2 separate regions of the Homo sapiens genome follow, and region 2 is linked to region 1. A link means that fine-mapping ties the variant in region 1 to the expression of a gene that starts in the linked region. Tissue or cell type: whole blood. Region 1 holds a variant in brackets; the other region holds the start of a gene. All regions are shown on one strand. Distances are between the middles of the regions.

Region 1 (8,275 bases):
CAATGAATTAGGTGTTGATGGGACGTATTTCAAAATAATAAGAGCTATCTATGACAAACCCACAGCCAATATCATACTGGATGGGCAAAAACTGGAAGCATTCCCTTTGAAAACTGGCACAAGACAGGGATGCCCTCTCTCACCACTCCTATTCAACATAGTGTTGGAAGTTCTGGCCAGGGCAATAAGGCAGGAGAAGGAAATAAAGGGTATTCAATTAGGAAAAGAGGAAGTCAAATTGTCCCTGTTTGCAGACGACATGATTGTTTATCTAGAAAACCCCATCGTCTCAGCCCAAAATCTCCTTAAGCTGATAAGCAACTTCAGCAAAGTCTCAGGATACAAAATCAATGTACAAAAATCACAAGCATTCTTATACACCAACAACAGACAAACAGAGAGCCAAATCATGAGTAAACTCCCATTCACAATTGCTTCAAAGAGAATAAAATACCTAGGAATCCAACTTACAAGGGATGTGAAGGACCTCTTCAAGGAGAACTACAAACCACTGCTCAAGGAAATAAAAGAGGACACAAACAAATGGAAGAACATTCCATGCTCATGGGTAGGAAGAATCAATATCGTGAAAATGGCCATACTGCCCAAGGTAATTTACAGATTCAATGCCATCCCCATCAAGCTACCAATGACTTTCTTCACAGAATTGGAAAAAACTACTTTAAAGTTCATATGGAACCAAAAAAGAGCCCGCATCGCCAAGTCAATCCTAAGCCAAAAGAACAAAGCTGGAGGCATCACACTACCTGACTTCAAACTATACTACAAGGCTACAGTAACCAAAACAGCATGGTACTGGTACCAAAACAGAGATATAGATCAATGGAACAGAACAGAACCCTCAGAAATAATGCCGCATATCTACAACTATCTGATCTTTGACAAACCTGAGAAAAACAGGCAATGGGGAAAGGATTCCCTATTTAATAAATGGTGCTGGGAAAACTGGCTAGCCATATGTAGAAAGCTGAAACTGGATCCCTTCCTTACACCTTATACAAAAATCAATTCAAGATGGATTAAAGATTTAAACGTTAGACCTAAAACCATAAAAACCCTAGAAGAAAACCTAGGCATTACCATTCAGGACATAGGCGTGGGCAAGGACTTCATGTCCAAAACACCAAAAGCAATGGCAACAAAAGCCAAAATTGACAAATGGGATCTAATTAAACTAAAGAGCTTCTGCACAGCAAAAGAAACTACCATCAGAGTGAACAGGCAACCTACAACATGGGAGAAAATTTTCGCAACCTACTCATCTGACAAAGGGCTAATATCCAGAATCTACAATGAACTCAAACAAATTTACAAGAAAAAAACAAACAACCCCATCAAAAAGTGGGCGAAGGACATGAACAGACACTTCTCAAAAGAAGACATTTATGCAGCCAAAAAACACATGAAAAAATGCTCATCATCACTGGCCATCAGAGAAATGCAAATCAAAACCACTATGAGATATCATCTCACACCAGTTAGAATGGCAATCATTAAAAAGTCAGGAAACAACAGGTGCTGGAGAGGTTGTGGAGAAATAGGAACACTTTTACACTGTTGGTGGGACTGTAAACTAGTTCAACCATTGTGGAAGTCATTGTGGCGATTCCTCAGGGATCTAGAACTAGAAATACCATTTGACCCAGCCATCCCATTACTGGGTATATACCCAAATGACTATAAATCATGCTGCTATAAAGACACATGCACACGTATGTTTATTGCGGCATTATTCACAATAGCAAAGACTTGGAACCAACCCAAATGTCCAACAATGATAGTCTGGATTAAGAAAATGTGGCACATATACACCATGGAATACTATGCAGCCATAAATAATGATGAGTTCATGTCCTTTGTAGGGACATGGATGAAATTGGAAACCATCATTCTCAGTAAACTATCGCAAGAACAAAAAACCAAACACCGCATATTCTCACTCATAGGTGGGAATTGAACAATGAGATCACATGGACACAGGAAGGGGAATATCACACTCTGGGGACTGTTGTGGGGTCGGGGGAGGGGGGAGGGATAGCATTGGGAGATATACCTAATGATAGATGACACGTTAGTGGGTGCAGCGCACCAGCATGGCACATGTATACATATGTAACTAACCTGCACAATGTGCACATGTACCCTAAAACTTAAAGTATAATAAAAAATAAAAAATAAAAAAATAATAAAAAAATAAAAAAAAAAAGAAATAAAAACCACTCCTGGCGAAGATTCTATGAACATTGTTAAAATTACAAAAAGGGATTTATAATATCCATAAACTTAGTTCATAAAGCAGAGGTGGGGTTTGAGAATATTGACTCCAATTTTGAAAGAAGTTCTACTGAGGAAAAAATGCTGTCAAATAGCATCCCCATGCTATAGAGAAATATTTTGTGAAGGGGTCAATCAGTGTCATGAACTTCATTGTCTTATTTTAAGAAATTGCACAGCCACTTAATACCTTTGGCAACTACCACCCTGATCAGTCAGCAGCCATCAATATTGAGGCAAGACCCTGCACCAGCAAAAAAGGTTACAACTTGCTAAAGGCCCAGATGATTATTAGCATTTTTTAGCAATAAACATTTTGAAATTAAGTTATGTACTTCTTTTTTTTTTTTTTTTTTTTTTGAGACAGAGTCTCGCTCTGTCACCCAGGCTGTAATGCAGTGGCATGATCTCAGCTCACTGCAACCTCTGCCTCCCATGTTCAAGCAATTCTTCTGCCTCAGCCTCCCAAGTAGCTGGAACTAAGGTGCCCGCCAACATGCCTGGCTAATTTTTGTAGTTTTAGTAGAGATGGGGTTTCACCACATTGGCCAGGCTGGTCTGGAACTCCTGACCCTGTGATCTGCCCGCCTCGGCCTCCCAAAGTGCTGGGATTACAGGCATTAGCAAGTTATGTACATTTCTTTAGACATAATGCTGTTGCACACTTAATAGGCTACAGTGTCATGTAAACATAACTTTTTCTGCACAGGGAAAGCAAAACATTTATGTGACTCACTTTATTGAGATTTTGACTTTATTGTTTTGGCATGGAACCAAACTGGCAATGTATGCAAAGTGTGTCTGTATTCACTAAATAATAGTTTTGAACTTTATGATTGCAGTAAGTTTATATCAGTTTCACTTCAATTTTTTAGGGTTG[CA/C]TAATTTGCCACAATTTTCATCAGATATTTTGGAATGATGTAGCAGAATACATCAAGAAAATCTCCAGTTCTTTTGACAATTTTTGTTAGAGCTTTTTGATTCTTACCCTCATGGAAATACTTGTGTATAAATATAGAAAATCTCAGATTAAATTATTTTCTTGGTAGCCTTGCCTGTTCCTATTAAGCCACAGAAAATATTAATAAGGTGAATATGTTAACTTTATTTTTCAAATTATTGTTAATCTCAGCATACTATGAAGAACATGAATGTACTGTACACACAAACAACTTGATGTCTCACTAAATGAAAGACACATGTGCATTAGATCCATCTACCTTTCAGGCACAGTCATGGGGTTTTTAACTCCACAACATTAACTGGAATTGTGGAATACAGATAAGATCATAATTGCAAAGATGTGATATTCCCTGAAGAATTTTTTATCTATGATCAAAATGCAAAAAATTTAATGTGTTATGGTAATGTTCCTTATTATCCATGATTAAGTCACACCAAAATGGCACAAAGACCAGGAAACCAGCCAAGCATTCACTGGAGGCATTACTCAGTGTCTGAGAGATTCAGTTGATTTATATGAATTAAGGAATATTTTACTATCTAGTATGTATCATTTAAAATAAAACAAACCTTCTAAAGATGATAATTGTAAACATTTGAATTGTGTTTTTAATTGGAAAAGTAATGAGCTTGTACTGTTAAGCTGTTTCTTATTTTATGTTCTATGCTTTCACAATTTACATTTACTTACTTGTAAATTGTGTTATCTGAAGAATTTTTTCCATATCTGATGTCTGCATAACTCCGGAATATTGTTAGACATTTAATAGGAACCTAATTATAAAACAAATTTATTTACTATGTATGCCATTAAAAACATTACAATTAGCCTGTTTAAGCCTCAATGTATCTCAGCGCTGAACTCTATCAAATGCTATGAACTCACAATTTTCCATGACTTTATATGCAATTAAAGACCTCAATGAAATTATTTATGTTTTTATCCCCCAATTATATAGTACCTACTCTGTGCCAGGCAATATGCTGTGGACTGAAGGTACCAACATGAATAAGATAACTTTCCCTCACTGGGTGTGATAGGCTGAATAACCACTCCCTCCATCTCCCCCAACCGCCGCATGCGCATGTCCTAATTTGTGGAACATGCGAATGTTATCATATGGCAAAGACTTTGTGGGTGTGATCAAGTTAATGATTTTGATTATCCTAGGATTATCCTGGATTACCAAAGTAAGCCCAAATACAATTACATAGATCTTTATAAGAGGGAGGCATAGAGAGATTTGGCACAGACAGAGAAGAAGGCAAAGTGACATTGGAGGCAGAGATTGGAGAGATGTGGCTCCCAGCCAAGGAATGCTACAACCACAAAAAGCTGGAAGAGGAAGGAACAGATTCTCACCTAATGGCCTTGGAGGCAATGCAGCCCTGATGATACCTTGATTTTATTCTGGTGTTACTGATTTCAGACTTCTGGACTCCAGAACTATAAGAGAATAAATGTGTGTTGTTTTAAACAACCAAGTTTGGGTAATTTGTCACAGCAGTCATAGGAAATAAATGCACTGAGGAACTCAAAGTTTAATGAAAGAGACAAACACAAAAAATAATTGTTATAGTACAGCAAGAGCCCTATTCGAAGTATGTGGGAGCGGATGGGGAGCATGGGTGGAGTATTGACTCTGATGGATCTAGTTCTTTAAAGCTACTTAGAAGATCTGAACTGAAGCTTGAAATAAAATAGTGTTTTCCAAGCAGGGAAGGGAGTACAAAAATGCAGAAACCAAAAAAATATGGTGAGTTTTATAATGCAAAATGGTATTTTGAAATGCACAGTTTAAATCAGGAAATAATTAGCCCTAAAATAATTTTCATTGATTTTAAATTTTTGATTACTCATATTTATCAAAAAAAAGTATATGGCTGTAAAGTATCCTTGGAAAATGTAATAGTAAATATACTACAAATAAGAAAATGAATATTACAGCATTACAAATGATTTTCTATCATTGCTTGTTGCTGAGGATTTTAGAGAGGTTGTTACACAGAAATGTTAATTAAACCATATCAACAGTACCATACTTTAATCAGTTGGAGAGAAATTATTTATTCTAGTTATAAAAATAATTACCAATTCCTCAAATTATAATAAAAATAAAGCAACAGTTTTAATAAAAATATTTCTCTTCTCTTCATTTTTTTTTTGATTAATACAAATTTTTGCTTAGATGTTTTTGGCCAAGTGCAAAATAAATAGAGGTCATTTTTCTTGTGTTCTCTTGTGAGAGTTGAACAGTAAAAGTAGTAAGGATGTATGAACAAAAATATCTGATACTGTGTTTGGAACTAGAAATTTTGCAGACTAGACAGAACTTGGGTGAGTTTTGAAATATGTTTTCAAGGTTAATTTCACTATTTGAGGAAGAGAGAATGGTAAAGAAAAGATGTTATAAGCCAAATGAAGATTTACTGTGGTATAGATCAGGTATCAGTGATTTAGCAATGAAACCAAAGGAAATGATAAATTATAATATGAAGGACAGTTTGATTATCCAGAGATGATAGGATAAGTTTATATCAGTTTCACTTCAGTTTTTTAGAGTTGCATAATTTGCCACAGTTTTCATCAGATATTTTGGAATGATGTAGCAGAATACATCAAGAAAATCTCCAGTTCTTTTGACAATTTTTGTTAGAGCTTTTTGATTCTTACCCCCATGGAAATACTTGTGTATAAATATAGAAAATCTCAGATTAAATTATTTTCTTGGTAGCCTTGCCTGTTCCTATTAAGCCGCAGAAAATATTAATAAGGTGAATATGTTAACTTTTTTATTTTTCAAATTATTGTTAATCTCAGCATACTATAAAGAACATGAATGTACTGTACACACAAACAACTTGATGTCTCACTAAATGAAAGACACATGTGCATTAGATCCATCTACCTTTCAGGCACAGTCATGGGGTTTTTAACTCCACAACATTAACTGGAATTGTGGAATTCCTGTTTGTTTTTATCAGTGGTCTAAGATAACTCTTCTATTGATCAAACATTAAAAATATTTTATTCATGTAAATATCTTTGTCAATATCCTTATCCTTGTCAATAGATGTAAGAGGAAAAGTAGAAAGTGTTGATCAATATTTTGGGATTTCTTTTTTTAAGTACATAAGATGCCATTGGCTTTTGCCATTTCTGTAGCTTTTTAGTGTAGCTAAAAGAAGGAAAATATAGTTTTTAGTATTCTAGGAAGACAGACACATACTTGAATTCCATACATGTTCATGCCAGTGGGGTATTCCTATGGCAGCCTTTGTTTCCTCCCAATACATTCTAATGATTAGCCCTAAGACTCTGCTAAGATTGTGAAGTATTTGACATTAGGTAGTACCTTAGGGAGAGTAAAGATTTTGATTGACTCAAGATAATATGCATAGAATCACCATGCAAATTCAAGAACAAAGCCACTTTATAAAAGCAAACTAAAAGTAATTTGAAAATAGACTTACTGGGAACTCAGAAGATTTACCTCAGTCTCAGGTGATCATGTAGAATGGACGGCCTCCCCACCTTTGGCTACTTTGGGAACCCTTCAAGTGATTTTTTTAAAGTTCCTTCCTAGAACAATGTAGCACAATCCCATCTTCTTTGGCAGGTAGGTGTCTCCTATTTTATTCCCTAGTATGAGCTTTTGCTAGTCAACATTTCCCTTTTGCAATGAGGCTGGAAATGTTTCTGCCTCCTAATAAAAGCTATCACATATTTGAGCATGCTGTTTTTTAGAGTCCATGACCTTATCTGCTTTCAGCCAGATTCTCTTACTACTTATAGGCAATTTTCTTCCAAATTTCATTTTATTTTGTTATTATTCATAATGGAATCTGTCCTTAATTTTTTTCTTTTTTCCTATAAGTTTTATTTTAAGTTCAGGGGTACATGTGCAGGACATGCAGGTTTGATACATAGGTAAATGTGTGCCATGGTGGTTTGCTGCACAGATCATCCCATCACCCAGGTATTAAGCCCAGCATCCATTAGTTATTCTTCCTGATGCTCTCCCTCCCCCAACACCCCTCAACAGGCCCCATTGTGTGTGTTGTTCTCCCATTGTGTCCATGCGTTCTCATCATTCAGCTCTCACTTATAAGTGATAACATGTTATGTTTGGTTTTCTGTTCCTGCATTAGTTTGCTGAGGATAATGGCTTCCAACTCTGTCCATGCACCTGCAAAGGACATGATCTCATTCTTTTTTGCGACTGCATAGTATTCCATGGTGTATATGTACATATTTTCTTTTTCCAGTCTATCATTGATGAGCATTTAGGTTGATTCCATGTCTTTGCTATTGTGAATAGTGCTGCAATGAACATATGCATGCATGTATCTTTATAATAGAATTATTCTATTTCTTTAGATATATATACAGTAATGGGATTGCTGGGTCCGATGGTATTTCCGGTTCTAGGTCTTTAAGGAGTCACCACACTGTTTTCCACAGTGGTTGAGCGAATTTACACTCCCACTAACAGTGTAAAAGCATTCCTTTTTCTTTGCATCCTCACCAGCATCTGTTGTTTTTTGACTTTTTAATAGCCATTCTGACTAGCATGAGATGGTATCTCATATGTTAGTTGGCTGCACTTATGTCTTCTTTTGAGAAGTATCTGCTCATGTCCTTTGCCCAGTTTTTAATGGGCTTGTTTGTTTCTTCCCTGTAAATGTGTTTAAGTTCCTTGTAGACTCTGGATATTAGACCTTTGTCAAATGGATAGATAGCAAAAATTTTCACCCATTCTGTAGGTTTTCTGCTAACTCCAACGATAGTTTCTTTTGCTGTGCAAAAGCTCTTTAGTTTAAGTAGACCCCGTTTGTCAATTTTTGCTTTTGTTGCAATTGCTTTTGGAGTCTTTGTCATGAAATCTTTGTCTGTTGCTATGTCCTGAATTGTATTGCCTACATTTTCTTCTAGGATTTTTATAGTTTTTGGGTTTTACATTTAAGTGCCTAGTTTACTTAAGAGTTTTTCAATACCTAGTTTATTGAGAGTTTG
Region 2 (8,000 bases), 150 kb after region 1:
CTTAGTTGTGCCTAGGACCAGTCAGATCAAGGAGTTGAAACTAAGCTCTTTCTGAATTTGAATGGGACTGGAATCTTGTCATCCCTAGAGCAGCAATAGATGATGCCATGTCTAAGAACACTTCACCTGATCAATAAAAAAGGAGAAGTCTGAAATGTAATCCTAAAGAACCTCAGAAGGAGGTTTAGATGAAGATAATAAAATTCCCTGGAGACACATCTGCCATCTACACCTTTCCTCTCCAAGTCATTGGCTTGCTGCCCCTGAGCTCAGCCAAATTCCCAAAGACAAGATCAAAGCAAGGAAGCAAGGCACATAGCTTCTGGCTTATGGTTTCTTTTAGACACAAGCATTGTGAATGAAGATCTTGCTTTATTTATACCTGGGATCTTGGAGTTTTCACAAAGAATATCCCCAGTACAAGGATGTGATTTAAAGGGGGACTCACAGAATAATATTTTAATTACTGTTTGATTCATACTTGAGTGTAATGGACAAATAAATACAATTTTAGTTATAAAACCTGAAAAATATATATTTTCCCATTCAAAAACTTCTGATAGTTTTGTCAGGCATTGGAGAATCAGAAATAAATGCTCTCTCATTTTCTTTCTCTTGATGAAGGAAAGTCATTAAAAACAGTTACATAGAAATAATAATACAACTGTAGACTCTATTCTAAATATAGCTGGTATGTTTTCCTTTTTCTTTTTTATCCATTCTCCATTTTAGACAGCTAGAGGGGAAAGTCTGCCCTAGAGATAGAAAGAAGATATCCATGGGGTATAATTTCATTTTAGTTATCTGATAGCCTGAAGAAGTATTTAATTTTCTGAATAATAATGTTACAAGTCAAAGAAGAGAAAAGACAGGCAGTTTAAAGCTTTTCAACATTGTGCATATTCTAATTCCTTAAGTCAGCCCTGAGAAAGTGCCTTTGTCCTGTAGAAGTATTTGGTCAAGTGTTGTGAAGTCTATTGGCATTAAAAGAAACTAAAAATTTTGGAGGATTAGAGAATCAAATTTGGCAACATAAATGAAAACATCTCAGAATGTAAAAAGTATCTAACCCATCACTTTCAATCATGTTCCATTATATACAGATGGCATTATTTATAGTGAATGTTAACTATTAACATTTCCCTAAAAATGGGCATTAATCTGCTATTAGTTGCTTGTTTCTGATCTAGTTCTCCTTTGTTGAAAGGTTTTACTTAACTGTATCATAAAGGGACAAAAGGGTAAAAGATAATAAGCTTTTCAGACTGGCAGATCTGTCACTTACAAAATGGCCTTGGGCAGGTTACTTGAACTCTTTGAAACTCAACTAGATTTACTCAAATTTAAGAATGAGAATACAAATCCACATCTTGAAGTGTTTCACAGAAAGGTCTATCTTAATGTCTGGAGTATATATTTCAATGAACATTCATTTTATTTTATTTCTCTCCATTCCTGAATCAAGCAATCTTGAATCTAAAGTTGCTATGATTAGCACTGAAAAGACCACTGGACTATTAATTGTGTGACTTTGGGACAGTAACTTTCTGCACCTTAGTTTGTTTACATGTTATACATGAAGGTTGAAGTCTGATTCTGCTCTGTGACTATCATTCTAAACATCTGATGAAATCAAATTTCAGTGTTTGGAATGGTAGTACAATAAATTTACTAAGAATAAATAATTCACTGCAAAAACACATTGATTTCCAAATGATGTAACTGACAGTTATATTACTGCAGAGGGCTGATAAATAACAAAAGAAATGAAAGATGCACATGGTGAGAACTGAAATTATCCTGACAAGTCTTCTACCTGTTTATCACTTAAAATCAATGACCATGCTGAATGCCTACAAATTACAAAATATAAAAGAAATCTTATAAATGCGCATGTACAGGAGTCTAAGTTACTAAAAGTTTTAAAGCATAAGTTTAAACCAAACTAATCAAAGAAGTTGAGAGGAAAAATTGGCTTTCATCTTTAATCACTACTGTTTTGAGGTCCTATGTTTAATATAATTTTCTAAGTAGAGGCTTCAGAGAGAAGAGTTGTGAGGATACTTTCATATTTGTGTAGAAGGAAAAGTTTGCCATCCATTCTAGTATCCCTAGTGTTATACTGATGTGCACCTTGGATTTATTTTGTTCCTATTGTATAAACTCATACTTGACTTCAAAGAAAAGGAAAATCCAAAGTCCCTCTTTTCTAAGGGGACAGAAATCCTTTGTGTCAACTGTTTGACCCTTTTCTCTGTAAGGTCCTATTGGAAATCTTTTGTAACACAATGCAGGGGACTCTTCCATGTGTTGATGCTGTTTACACAGTGGGGTGGGCCTGACTGAAGAAAAAAAATCGCATATACGCATGAAAGATTATGGTCTTATTTCCGGAAAGCATGAAAGGTGATTGATACTTCCAAGAAGTCCCTGTTACTCAGGAAAATTATCAAATATTCTACTCAGAGATACTTGGAAAGACTGAAGGAAAGGAAGAACGAAGAAAGCAGAATCTAGACTTATGTGGGGAGAGATTTGTGGCAGAGGAAAAGTATTCTCTTTGAATCCGACAAGGGATTTGCCTGGGGGAATTTCCTGTCCAGCCTTTTATTACCAGGGTCTTTTGAAGCCGGGCTCCCCATTGGGCAGTTCCCTGGGAGTGCAGTGGGGAATTCTTACACTTTCCCTCTAGGTCCCCGAAGGATCTCGTTTTCTCAGTGTCTCTTTCAGGTTGGCAGGAGCCTTGAGCCTGACACTTCCCTTTGATGGGACAGGCAAGCTCTGTGGGCGCGTAAACACGCTGTAACCAAGTTCTTTGCTGATTTTACAGTTTTGTGTGCTCCCGAGAAGAAGTGATCGTACTCAATTGTCTATTGCTGGCCTGCCCCCTAAGAGCCTGGGGGCTCCTTTCCCCTAACCCAGAACTAGCTGCACGGGGGGCGGGGAAATGGGGGTGGGGAAGGAGTGGGAGGGCAGTGGTTTCCGCGAGCAGAGCGATGTTACTGAGTGAGTCCCTGAATGGGGAGCGCTGCTGTCCCCAAGCCGATTGGTACTTCTTGTCAGGAAGAAACGCCAAGAGGTGGGAGTGCCTGGGGAGGGAGGCAGGCGGTCCCTACCGCAGGCGCGGGGAGCTGCCTTTCCGCCCCTCCGCCTGCTTTCCAAGCCTGGACTCTTAGGAGTGGCTGAAGCTGCGGAGCGCTTTTGGAGCCTGTGAATGAACCCTCCTCCTCTCCCTCCTCCTTCTTCTCGCTGAGTCTCCTCCTCGGCTCTGACGGTACAGTGATATAATGATGATGGGTGTCACAACCCGCATTTGAACTTGCAGGCGAGCTGCCCCGAGCCTTTCTGGGGAAGAACTCCAGGCGTGCGGACGCAACAGCCGAGAACATTAGGTGTTGTGGACAGGAGCTGGGACCAAGATCTTCGGCCAGCCCCGCATCCTCCCGCATCTTCCAGCACCGTCCCGCACCCTCCGCATCCTTCCCCGGGCCACCACGCTTCCTATGTGACCCGCCTGGGCAACGCCGAACCCAGTCGCGCAGCGCTGCAGTGAATTTTCCCCCCAAACTGCAATAAGCCGCCTTCCAAGGTAATCACGTTTCTTTTGTTCCCCCCTTAAAAAACAAAAACAAAAAACTTATAGAAAAAAACCCGCGAGCTTAGAAAAAAGAAGCAATTGGTAGAAGGCTTTAATTAAGGCAAAGAGCTGTAAGGCGAAGTTAAGAAAATGTAGGCACTTAAAAAATGCAGGTAACTTTCATAAGGGCTTTTGGGGAGAGGCATACAGAGGGACCTTGGTGTTGAAAAAGATTCAGACAAAAGAAACCCAGGGTGGGGTGGGGGGTAAAATGACTAACGGAATTGGGGGAAGGGAGGGAATAAATTGTAAAGAAATCATAGAAAAGTGGTGGGTTCTTGAGCTGGAGAGAAGAGAGGGACCTTTGGCACTTTGATTTTTTTGTTGTTGTTGTTCTTAACACGCTCGAGGCAAAAGTTTGAATGGGGACTACCAAGACTTGCCACAGACAAGTCCCCGAAGCCGCCTTGGTGCAGGCCACCTGGTTTCCCAGCCCCTGGTGTGTGGTCAGTGCCTGGTGTTCCTGGAAAGCCACTCCCGGGCAGCTCCTGACAGTGCGACCCGGCGCCCAAGCAGCCTGGGACCTTGCGCGGACCTGACCCCTTCAGACCGCAGGCAGTCTGGGAGGAGGTCCGGCCGGGGGAGGTGCAGGATCCCCGCCGTGTCTCTTTGACGACTTGGGGACTGTCACGGTTCTCTCCCGGCGCCCCTGGGTTCTTTTGTCCTGCACGCGGTGCGAAGGGGCCAGCAGGGAAGGAGCAGAGGATGGGGGGTGGGGTTGTTGGAGCCCCGCGGAGGTCTGGGAGGCCCCTGGGCGGGAAAAGCCTGTTCTGAATCGGCAGGGATGTGCAACAATTTTTCTCACCCTGAAGAGTGAAATAGGGTCTGTCGCTCCCATCTCAACAAGCAAACCGGCACCCAGAGCGCACTGCAGACAAAGGTGGCTCGGGGACCCGAATCAGGGGCCTCTGGGTCAGTCCTCTCGCCCAGACTACAGGAGTCCTCCGTTTCCTTACATATTCCCCACCCTCTCCTAGTTCTCCGCTCTAGTTGAGCAACTTTACTGGCAGGTCTAGCGGCAGCGGCGCGCGCGTGTGCCGGGAGCCCCGGGGGACGTCCTCGGCTGGAGCGCCCCACCGTCCTGCAGAGGCGTGGGCGCTGTAGGGCGACATCCCTGGTGCGTGCAGACCTAGGGCATCCGGGTTGTTCTGGCCCGCGGTCTGTGTCACTGGGCGTGGAGCGGTCTGGGTGTTAGGCAGAGGAGAGCGGGGTAGAAAAATAGTGTCATAGCCTAAACTATTTGCTCTCCAATCCAACTGCGTCTCGGCAAGTCCTGCATGTCCCTGGGAGATGCTGCGGGAAGGGGGAGAAATCTACACGGCGCCTGGAGAGTTGTCCTGCCGCGCGCACACCCGCGGCAGAGTCTCTCTGGGTCGCGTTCCTCATCTTTGTGTCTCCCTCTGTCTCCATCTTCTCTGCCTCCCTTCCCCTCTCCCAGCCTCTGTTCTCTCTCTCTAGCTTCTGCGTCCCCTCCCCCACAGCTGACAAATGAATGGCTAGTGTGAAATCCCTGCCTTTCCCGTGCTCCAAGGCAGCAGGGAGGGAGGAGCGAGGGAGGCGGTGCGCTCCTTCGGATCTGCCCCCAGTTCAGCTCACAAGACTTGCAGAACCTAGATGTCTAGGAATTGGGAGTTTTGCGGCGGGTGTGGGCGCCCCCTGATGGAGAAGTCCCGCACAGGCGGAGAAAAACAAGCCCCCCAGACCAAGCGAGCATCTTTCACAACCTTGTGTTCAAGGATGGAAGGCCCTAGTTTTCCCTTAAGTCATTCATTTTGCACTCCACAATCTGCGGCGTACATCTAGGAGTTTGGAGGACCCTGAAAAAAGGTCTTGGTCTGTGCAAAGTGCAGAGATGCCTTCTCGCGAGTCGGCTGGAACGCACGCGGCGCCCTGGGTCCAGTTCGCCGCTTAGTGGACGAACGCACATGGCCAGGGTGGAGCCAGGTTTCGGAGGTCTAGACGCGCCACCCTGGGCGTCTTTAAGAAAGATAATACACATACCGTGCTCTCAAAACCCATGACCACTTGAACCCAACGCTAGGGCCCCGCCCCAGGATATTGCAAAAGAAGGGCTCCTAATCCAAAACTTAAACTTCCTCAACTTCAGGGCGGGCGTCGGACGGGAAAGTGGAGAGAAGGCGGGCAGTGGGAGGAAAAAAGAAAGGGAAGGAAGGGAAGTGGAAGGAAAGAGGACCGTGGAGGGGAGGAAAAGGAGAAAGGAACGGAGATGGGGCAGATGGCATTCAAACAGCCAGGAACGGACCGGAAGGGTTCGTTTCGGGGTTTGGGTCTGAATTTCGAGACTCGTTTTAGGATACTCTTTTCCCTTTCCCAGCGGCAACAAATGTGACTGCAGAGGCGTGCCGGGATGGAAGGGTGGGAAAGAACTAGACAAGCGGAGGTGGTCCAGCCCCGCCCAAAGGGGCTGGGTCTGGGGCCCGCCCCCACTCGCTCACCTCGCGCCAAGGGAGGACCCGCAACGGGCGCTCCCCGCAGCGGCTGGGTTAGCCAGCCGCCACGTGGGTTGGCGCTTCGGCTCCCAGCCGAGACGGGTGTGACTTCCTGGGCTCAGAGACTGCAGTACAGCCGCACAGGCGGCCGGCGCAGCCGAGGCCCCCACCCACCGAGGCCAATGGGGGCGGGGCGGGGAAGGCAGGGCCCAGCTTAACCGAGAGAGCCGAGTGGCCTCGCCCCCAGGATTCGGGGCCGGCTGCTTCTGGAGCTGACCCGAGTTCCATCCAGACAGCGCTGAACACTCTTATTAAAAGGCTATTTAAGTTTTATTTTATTTTATTTTATTTTTGCTTGCTTCTTGGGAGTGGTAGGAGGGGCATCGTGCTTTTGTTTTGAGGCAGGGGAGAGGTTAAAATTTACTCCAAGCAAACTTTTTGTCAGAAAAATGAGACTTTATACCGTATTCCATTTGTTGACTTTTTAAATACATTCAGGTCACTCTAAAGCCCATTCTTAGTCAATTAACAGATTAATTTCGTTCCAGACTGTCATAAAGAGTTCGCCTGGAATGGCAAATACTGCCATTCGACAAGACTAATAGAATTTCATGGGGGCAAACATGGAAGGGCTGCGAGTGTAACTGAGGTTCCTGTGCCTCAATGAGGAACCTTAGCGGGGACCTGGCGGGGACTGGAAGCTCAGCACCTATTTAGGGAGTGACTGAGCTGGAAACCTGGAGAAGCTTGGTGCAGACGAGACGGTGCTTCTTAGAGCTGCATTTTAAGTCCTCCCATTTTGCTGCATATTGGAAGAACTGGATTTTAAAGATCTTTTCCATCACCTCAGATTCTGTAGCTAACAGCCACGTCTTTTTCTTTTTGTCTGCTGAAAGCTGTGACCTAATTGTTTTAAGCACTTCTTGACAATTTCGCCAAACCCATCCTGAAAATATTCACATAAAGTCCTAAAATAGGATGTTGTGAGTGTAATATAAAAATAGGAAGGTACCAATGGAAGCAACAATTAGTGTTCTGAGATAGAAGCGGTTCCCAGTTTGTAACTTGGAAATGTTAAGAGCAGTACATCAGGGAGAAGGTCTCCAAGAGTCTGACTTCTTGTTCTGAGCTCTGAGTAAAGAAAGAAATATGTTAGAATTGTATTGTCTGCCCGCAGTAATATTGTAAAGGGTTCCAATGGATTCCAATGTGATTGAGCAATTACTTCCTCCAGCACCAAGTCCACAGTCCTTAATCTTCTTGTGAGAAGATTAGGTAGGAAGCGGGATGAGATTCAAGACAATCATTTAGGATTTATGTCAGAATTCAAAGTTTTGATTCTTTTGGTAGATAAAAACAGAGTTGGTTTTAAATTGTATTTCCTGCTTTCAAAAAAACGAGGTTTGAAAGGAATCCCCCTAGATTTACATAGGTTTACAGATGTAAGTTTCTTCTTTTTCCCTGTGTTTGCAAACTGGAGGGAGATGCCTTTGATATTCCAGAATACCTGTATCTATACACTTGTAAATTCTGCTAGGAAAGGACCTAAACAGCTAAACCAAAGGTGACCATGATTAATGTTAAAGATACTACCCATTGTTCTCTCTTTTGTTGTATTATTAGGCTTAAATACTTTGGAGTTAATGATTGGTCACTTAATTGAGTAACAGAGCCTTTGAGAGCGCAAAGATCAACTAACTCTGTCTCCCAAAGTCTGGCAACTAAGCCCTCCTTTCCTGGTGAGATTTAAACATTTTTGTTGACGTCATTCATGGACAAACATCGGTAAACACTGTATTTAAAATGGGATATTGCCCTGTGATGGAGCAGAACTTCTCAAGACACATGGTTCTTTTGAAAGAAAGAATTAATGACTGTAGTAAGGTATTTTTTCACCACCCACGTAGAGAAAC

The links. PIP is the estimated chance that this variant, and not a neighbour inherited with it, causes the effect.
Region 2: it holds the start of VCAN, and the variant in region 1 is fine-mapped to the expression of VCAN in whole blood (INTERVAL, PIP above 0.99).

Annotation. Positions count from the first base shown.
Region 1 is chr5:83,318,175-83,326,449 of GRCh38, forward strand. All of the region lies in intron 7 of XRCC4 (X-ray repair cross complementing 4), which reads left to right. Among named protein-coding and RNA genes, the nearest start is that of VCAN, 150 kb to the right of the region's middle. The variant CA/C (reference allele first, on the strand shown) is at 3,176.
Region 2 is chr5:83,468,435-83,476,434 of GRCh38, forward strand. VCAN (versican) reads left to right here and starts at 3,310. Exons shown (of 15, transcript NM_004385.5): 1 at 3,310-3,589. RefSeq lists enhancers at 3,739-4,611, 7,163-7,685, 7,686-8,000 and silencers at 6,044-6,133, 6,164-6,383.